Linked DNA regions of Homo sapiens: region 2 is reported to be linked to region 1. Evidence: microRNA targets listed by miRTarBase, many of them from high-throughput screens and not tested one by one. Region 1 holds a microRNA gene; the other region holds the end of a gene's coding sequence.
Evidence for each region. Region 1 holds the annotated microRNA hsa-miR-125b-5p (UCCCUGAGACCCUAACUUGUGA, at 1,807-1,828, shown strand). A microRNA usually pairs through its seed, bases 2 to 8, with sites in the 3' UTR of a target mRNA and lowers its output. Matches are read on the target gene's strand: a 7mer-m8 pairs with bases 2 to 8, a 7mer-A1 pairs with bases 2 to 7 and ends in A, and an 8mer does both.

Region 2: miRTarBase lists GPRIN1 as a target of hsa-miR-125b-5p. The part of its 3' UTR that is shown has no 7-base or 8-base seed match.

What each region holds. Positions count from the first base shown.
Region 1 is chr11:122,097,104-122,101,636 of GRCh38, reverse strand. MIR125B1 (microRNA 125b-1) reads left to right here and starts at 1,793; the gene lies at 1,793-1,880. The region is part of intron 4 of MIR100HG (mir-100-let-7a-2-mir-125b-1 cluster host gene); the gene reads left to right.
Region 2 is chr5:176,594,056-176,597,055 of GRCh38, reverse strand. GPRIN1 (G protein regulated inducer of neurite outgrowth 1) reads left to right here. Exons shown (of 2, transcript NM_052899.3): 2 at 1-1,254. The coding sequence ends at 248. It overlaps CDHR2 (cadherin related family member 2), which reads right to left. Exons shown (of 32, transcript NM_017675.6): 32 at 1,232-1,524. The coding sequence ends at 1,384. Among named protein-coding and RNA genes, the nearest start is that of GPRIN1, 15 kb to the left of the region's middle. RefSeq lists a silencer at 22-181.

The DNA.
Region 1 (4,533 bases):
CGAAAGGGCCATTATTATTATTATATTTTAATGGTAAAAGAGAAAAGGAGAGAGGTTGAGCGAGCGAGAGAGAAGCTAGGTGTGATGATGACAGACTAGCTTTTCTGAGAGGAAAAGGAAAAGGGAAGGGAGAGAAAAAGGAGAGCCTCTGAGCTCAACGGAGGATTGTGCCTGAGAAGAACCCACAGAGGTGAGAAAAAAGTTGTCTTGAAGGTGGGGGTGGGGGGGCTGCTAAACAGACACTGTACAGAGGGAGAAGAGACATAATTTAGCTGTGTTGCTAGTATGATTCCATTTTTAAAGGAGGGGAGGGGGAGAGTCTAGAGCTCTAACTGTTTTTAGTTGCATATGGAAATATCTAAAAAAATATTTAGCATTTTTACTAAGTGCGTTGAGGCCTCTCCAGTGTCCTCCTGGCTGTGGCTGCTTTGTCATTCTCTTTGACTAGCCAGCCATCTACCTTGCTCAGGCCTGGAATAAAAGAAGAACAAGAAGAAGAAAGAAATGAAATGAAAAACAGAAAGAAAAAGGAGAAGAAACATTTGTAAAAGGGTCATCTTCCCATCTGCCTCCCCTCCTTTTCCTTTCATTTTTGGTGGCGGCACAGGAAAGCCCCACTTCCAGTCTGATGAGGAAAGCGACAATCTATCAGGTACAGAACCAGGGGCTGTCTGCGAAGATGGAGGGGAATTATGCTTCGGATTCCTCTGAAATATTGGCCAAAGGCTTCAAAGAATCCGCAGCGGGAGGTGCGGGGGGAATGTCTCTCCCCAGCCCGCACCCAGCCCTTCCCACTTCGTGTCTACCAAATGACAGCCTGGTGCTCGCTCTTGGTGATTTGGCCTTGACTTCAGCCAAGCAGCTGATGCAGACGAAGCCTCCGTTTGCAGGACTGGCAAAGTGCACGCTAAAGAAAGAAGGAAGAAATTTTTCAAAAAGCAGCTCTGGGGAGGTTTCATACTCCCCCCCCCCCCCCGCCTTTTTTTAATTTTTAAGTGAATATTTTCCAAATTTGATCAGTTCCAGCCCCTCCCTCCACTCCCACCCAACTGCCCTTTTTTCTCTCGTCAAAGCATAAGCTACAGAGTTACAGTCTCGAGATTTGGTGTATCGCTTCCTGCCCCCGCCTCCCCTCCCCGCCCCCGTTCTCCGTCCTCTATTGAAACACCTCGCCCAGCCTAGCGCACTGAGAGCTCTCATTTTCCCCCCTTGCTCGGGATGGTGCCACAGGAGGCTGTGCGGGCCCCGCTCCGCTTCGAATGGGTGAGTTCAGAACGCTATTCGTCTTTACACTTCTATAGCCTCCGAATCCTACTTCTTGGTCTTCTCCTTTGAAAACCCGATTTCTATGATTTTTGCATGCGGCATACTTGCCCTGGGGGAAAGAGATGCCTCCTATTTTCTCTTCAGTCATTTGTGCTAGTCGTAAATTAAAGCTTTGAAAAGACACTAAATCCTTATTGTAGACTATGGTTTTAAAAACTTGGGCATTTCTGAGTCTGTGCATATTATTTTCCGTTTTAGTGAACTATTTTGCCCAAATCTTGAAAGAGTTTTCTCTGATGTACTCGTGATCGTATGTGTATGTGCGTGATTGTATATGCGCCCCCAGATACTGCGTATGTGTGTATATATGTATTAGGCTTAAACGGAATCTCAATTTTGTGAAGGAAAGGAGCTTAGAGAAGAAATACCATACCACCTGTTTGTTGCATCTTAGTTATGAACCTCGAACAGAAATTGCCTGTCATTCTTGTTTTGCTTTGCTTTGTCTCAAGAAAGAAAACATTGTTGCGCTCCTCTCAGTCCCTGAGACCCTAACTTGTGATGTTTACCGTTTAAATCCACGGGTTAGGCTCTTGGGAGCTGCGAGTCGTGCTTTTGCATCCTGGAAATTTGGTGGAATTTTATTCTTTAAAGCAAAAACAAAAGAAAAGAAAGTTTGTCTGAGGTGATTGAGTATACCTCTGAGGTTTTCATTGTTAGATGGGATCAGGTGACCAGAGAGTGGCAGCTCCTGGATTTCTGTTAAAGTAGGTATATATTTTGCTTTAATAGCGTGTTGGCTGCTATGTGTATGTATGCATGTTATTGATGCCTGAGGCTTGTGGAACTCATCTGCCTGGTCTATTCCTTGAGAGCAACACGCAGTAGTATACGAGCGTAACAAGAACAGCTCAGTACCTGGTGCTTGACCTCAGAACATCTCAGCTGAAGTCCCAGCATGCCCCATGTCTCCAACTTTCAAACTCCACAGTTAATCTTAAAATTGTGCCCAATTAAAATGGGCATGTGAATATATTATATATTCAGTGTCCACACATGTGTATCATGGATGGCTAGACAGTGAACATACAGACGCAGATAAAGGCAAACTAATAGTTTGGAGTAAAATATTAATAGGTTAAAATTCTATTCTTGCAATTCCACACAAAGGATGGAAGTTATGGTATTAATAAAAATTAAGTTTGTATGACTTTGCAAGATTTTTTAAAAATAAAAGGAGGGATACCACCTCCTTGCTTGGTATCTTTTACAAAATGTTATACTTTATGGATATAAAGGTGATAAAGATTGGAAATAAATCTTCTAAATATGTAAAATGAAAGCAACAGCAACAGCAAACACAATTATCGTATTCTTTGGGAGTAACAAATACTGGTTTTCATTTTAAAACTAAGGAAAATTTTATCAGTACTTAAATTCAATCCAAAAAAGGTTTTATAACACCCAAACTGTACATTTAAAATTATCCTTTCTTAAGGTAATGGCTAGCATTACCTAGTTTGTAGTTTTCTTGAGCTGTAACTTTTTATAACTGAATCATTTCAGTGATTTAGGGCTGTCTCGTAGTTGGGGAAGAGAAACAGTAACTTACCTTTCCTTTGTTGTGAAAAATTCTAGTATAAAATATCATTTAAACAATTTTCGTATTATTGGGCCAACATTTCTCTTCTATGTTTGAAAAACACCTAAATCAACCCCAATCCAAATGCTTTCTTCTTCTAAAGACTTTATATTGGTTGTAGCCTTGTTTTATACATGTAATTGAAGGTTAGGGAAACTGTTCTTTGCCTGTTATTGTTTTTTATTTTAAGTGTTTATTGCAATTTTAGTCATTAATGCCAAATTGCAATCAAGAAACCATTTTGTATCAGAAAATTGAACTGAGAATATGAACTATGCAACGATTGCACCACGTCTTTTGTTGAAACCTCTTGTGTAGTAATATTAGAATATTACTTTCCAGTCTTTGATAGTCCGAATGTGCTTCAAAAAAAATAGTTATTTGATTGTCGAGTCATCGTTAGTTTATATTCAATGGTTTAATGACTTCCCCTACCTTAGCTGATGTGTATGCATAGGTATTTGGAAATTATAGCAAGGCATCTATTTAACTTACGAATCTATATTACCACATTATTCATATCCAACATTTGTAAAACAGTTGGTGCTTTTTGAAGTTAAAATATATCTGCAGTTTACTCTATGAAAATGTATACATGGATCAATAAAAACATGCCAGGTAAAATTCTTCCGTGATTTTCAGTGATAACAGGGTAGTAATTTAATACAAGTGTTTTAATTTGTATTTCAAGGCACTCTCAGGTTTTTACATGTTTTCAAGTGGATTGCTCATGTTCCGAGGTTGCTATCATACAACTGATCACCCAGGCATTTAAAAGTGCATAACGACACAAGATTTTATATTTCAGCAGGCAACTGCTTCAGTCAAGGGCAGGTTTCTCAACACCCCTTCTTCCTCACCGAGCCCATCAGTGAAGTTCAGTGAAATGAATAACATAATTGGTGGTTGGTTCAATCACTACCAGTCTAGACTAGCCCAGACGCATCAATTAGAGGGGGCTGTCTTTTAAAGGGAGAGTGCAACCGAAACAAGCAGGGCATTATTGATACTGATCTTTAAAAGTGCAAATCCAGCTTGGCAGATTAAAAAAAAAAAAATAAGGCGGGGAACTGGGGCGGGGGTGCGTTGCGGGAAGAAAAGAGAAAGAAGTGAACTGGAGCTTTCGGACACAGAAGGACAGGAAGCTTGAGAGAAAAGGAGAGGATAATGAGTGAAATGCAATGCAGCACCTCCTTGGAACACACAGTTACAATTCAGTTCACAGGGCACACTGGCTCACCGTATTTTTAACTAGTTTCTCTCCCCACCTCCTTTTTAAAAATTCCTTTTTTGCCTCTGTTTCCAAAGAAATGCCAGCTCAAAACCAAGGCAGTTGGAATTTAACAGCTCTAGGAAGCTCTAGTGAGAATAAAAGCCAAATAATATGAACCAGCCAAAATTCCTTTTGCAACATTTTTCCCCAAAAGAAAAATACAGAAGATATTTCTTTTCAAGTCTCTAATTCTACCTTTAAAAAATATGTGTACTAATGAACAGTATTCATTTTAAATCTAGAACCTGGGAATATATTACTATAGGCAAGACACCTTTAGGTAAAGAGCTCATAATTTTCCATTGAATACAGTAAAATTATAAAGAATGTAACAAAGGCTTTGGTAATTTGG
Region 2 (3,000 bases), not on the chromosome of region 1:
CCGCCATGGAGGTGGAGGTGCTGGGCATGGCCATCCAGAAGCATCTGGAGCGACAGATCGAGGAGCACGGCCGCCAAGGGGCGCCCGCGCCGCCGCCCGCCGCCCGTGCCGGCCCCGGCCGTTCGGGCTCGGTGCGCACCGCGCCCCCAGATGGCGCCGCCAAGCGTCCGCCCGGCCTGTTCCGCGCGCTGCTGCAGAGTGTGCGCCGGCCGCGGTGCTGCTCGCGGGCGGGACCCACGGCCGAGTGATCTGCCCCCATTTTGTACGCCCGAGTTTCCGACCTTCTCAGGCTCCCTTCTTGATCACAGGCCCCTAGAAGGGGTCCCCTCTGCGTGCCACAGGCCTCCGAGGGGTTGTGCAGCCTCTAGGGCTGTTGCGTCCCCGTCTTTCCAGCCCCTCCCATCACAAATACAGAAGAACCCCTTCTACCAAGCTCCCTCGTGGCCACGAGGCCACGAACCCGGCCAGCCCTGACGCCCCACTGTCCCCTCACAGCCCTCAGCTCTACTCCCGGTCACACTGGGCGACCACGGGGGCCTGCTCAGCACCCTCACCTCCCACCCCCTGAGAGCTGGGGCAGGCTCCTGAGATGTCTAGACTGGTGCGTTGTGGTCTCCGGTGGGGCCAGATCCCCAGAACAGGGAGAGACTGCATACAAGTCTGAGTGGCAGAAGCTTCAAGTGGGTGAGGATCGGTGTGTGAGACCCGCGAGTGGGCACGTCTCTGAATGTGAGGTCTCGGGCAGCACGTGAGGTAGAACGAGTGTGAGCGTCTCCACGCAGTGGCTGGCCCCGTGGCCGGGGCGTCTCTTGCATGCTGTTGGTGGTCCTTCCCCAGTTCCTATCTCCCACCCGCCTGGTTCCAGCCCCATCCCCTCTCCCACTGAGTCACAGGTTTGAGATTCCCAGAGAGGCCAAAGACAGCTACAGGAAGTACCCTGGGGGCTCAGCTGAGAGAGAGTCACAGAAAGGCCAGAGGGTCTCAGGAAGGTCTGGAGGTCACAGCTGGGCTCACAGAAGCTCTTGGGCCCTGGCATCCTGGGTGACCGGTGTTCTTGGGTATTGGGGACAGGACAGAGAGCTCATTCTATAACCACAGTTGTCTTTTAAAGGCCACCCTCTCCAGCCCCTTGTCCCCCCTGTGCTGTGAGCCCAAGTCCCTTGTGACCACTCAGTGTCCCGTCCCCACCCCTCCAGCCGCAGTTTTTGGCTACAAACTGTCACAGTATACATTGGTAATAAAATATTTCCCCAACCCCTGTCTGCCGTGATTGGCCAAAAGCAGGAGGCAGGGCAGCGTCATATATTTTCATCTCCAGGGAGACAGGTGCAGTTAGGGTGTGGTAGGGCCTCTTCAAGGGGTCCAGAAGAGTGGGGGCCCCTGTCACAGGTCCGTGGTGTCCAGGCCAGCGTTGGTGTAGGATGGCCCCTCCAGCTGTCCACTTGCGCCTGCCTGCCGTCCTAACAGGACCACGCTCAGGGGCTCTGGATCTGGCTCTGGTGGTGTGTGTGGTGGCCTGTGCTCCTGCAGGGAGAGGGAGAGGAGGTGTGAAGGGCAAGGCAAGGTGGGGCGAGTGCCCCAGGCCCTAGGGGAGTGGATGGGCTTCAAGCTCACGACCAGTGGTTCCTTGGCAGGGGTCCCACCCTGCCCCTCCTGGGGCCTCTGGTCCAGGCTGTGTCCCAGAGGTGGCCCTGGCTAATGGTGATGCAGATTAGGGGAGGGGGAGGGTGTGGCCTGGGGGATTCACTCTTGCCTTTGCCCTGCCCACCAACACTGCGGCACTCTGCCGTTCAGCCCAGTTCCAAATAATGCCAGGCCCTGTGTCCTGTGCCGAGGAGCCAGCCCAGCGCAGTTCCTGCCCCCTGTACCCCACGGCAGGCACCGTGTGGGTTGAGGTCCATCCATTACCTCAACTACCCACTGAAACCCTCTGAGGGAGGGAACATGTCCTCTCTTCACAGATGTGGAAACTGAGGCTTAGAGAGGTCTACTGGTGAAGAGGGGCAGACCACTGGTCTTGCTGGTTCAAAAGCGTGTCCATGATGTGACACTGCCCTGGTTGAATTTGACGTCTCTTTTTGCTGCCCTCAGAGGGACGCTGCCCACAGGCTGGTCCCACCTGCAGTTTATCATGGCACACACTCACTCATCTCTCCCGCCCTTCCTCTTCCACCTCGCCATGCGACATGCTGTGTGCGTGCACACACACACACACCCTCCTGTGGAACAGCCAGGCCCCCAAGCTCAGCTGCTCTGCTACAGAGACACCCACAGGGCCAGAGCCCCGGCCACCACCGCCCTCCCCAGGGCACTCCAAGGGCTTTTTCCAGACTGGGGCTGTTCTGGTCCCTAGTAAACAGTGGAACATCCGAGGGGCCCCAGAGGGGCTAAGCATTCTGCCTGTGTTCCTCAGAGCCCTCAAGACAGACCCCAAGTGGAGAGCTGCAGGCTCAGTGCCACCCACGATAACATGACCTGGTGCCAGAGACCAAAGACCTGGGTTCTGGTCTGCCCCTGCCCTGCAAGCTGTCCCACTTTGAGCAAGTCAGCACCCCTCTCTGGATGTGAATTTCCTTGCTGGTTACTTGGGGAGGTTAGAGTGATAATCTCTCCAGCCACTCACACCTACCACACAGACGTGTGGAGCTTAGACAAGTCAGGGCACCAAGAGATTCCTGGGAAAAGGATCCACCTGCGCCACCCCAGCCATGGGAGAGCAGGGGGCAGACAGCTCCCAAAAAGGCCCCATGCCTCGTGGACCTGCCCAGAGACCCGCAAGACTCACTGCTGCAGGAGACAGGGTGGAGCCTTGGGCAGCTTCTCAGAAATATAGCAACCCCCTGCCCTCCCAGGACATAATCTGAGCAATTTTCTGGCTTTGAAGACTTTCCGTGACTTGTCCCCACACCCTCTCCAGACCCTTCTCCTACTTCCCTGCCCCTTCCCAGTCCACAGATCCAGCCACACCTCAGGGGGTCCTTAACTCCACTCCCTTGGGTT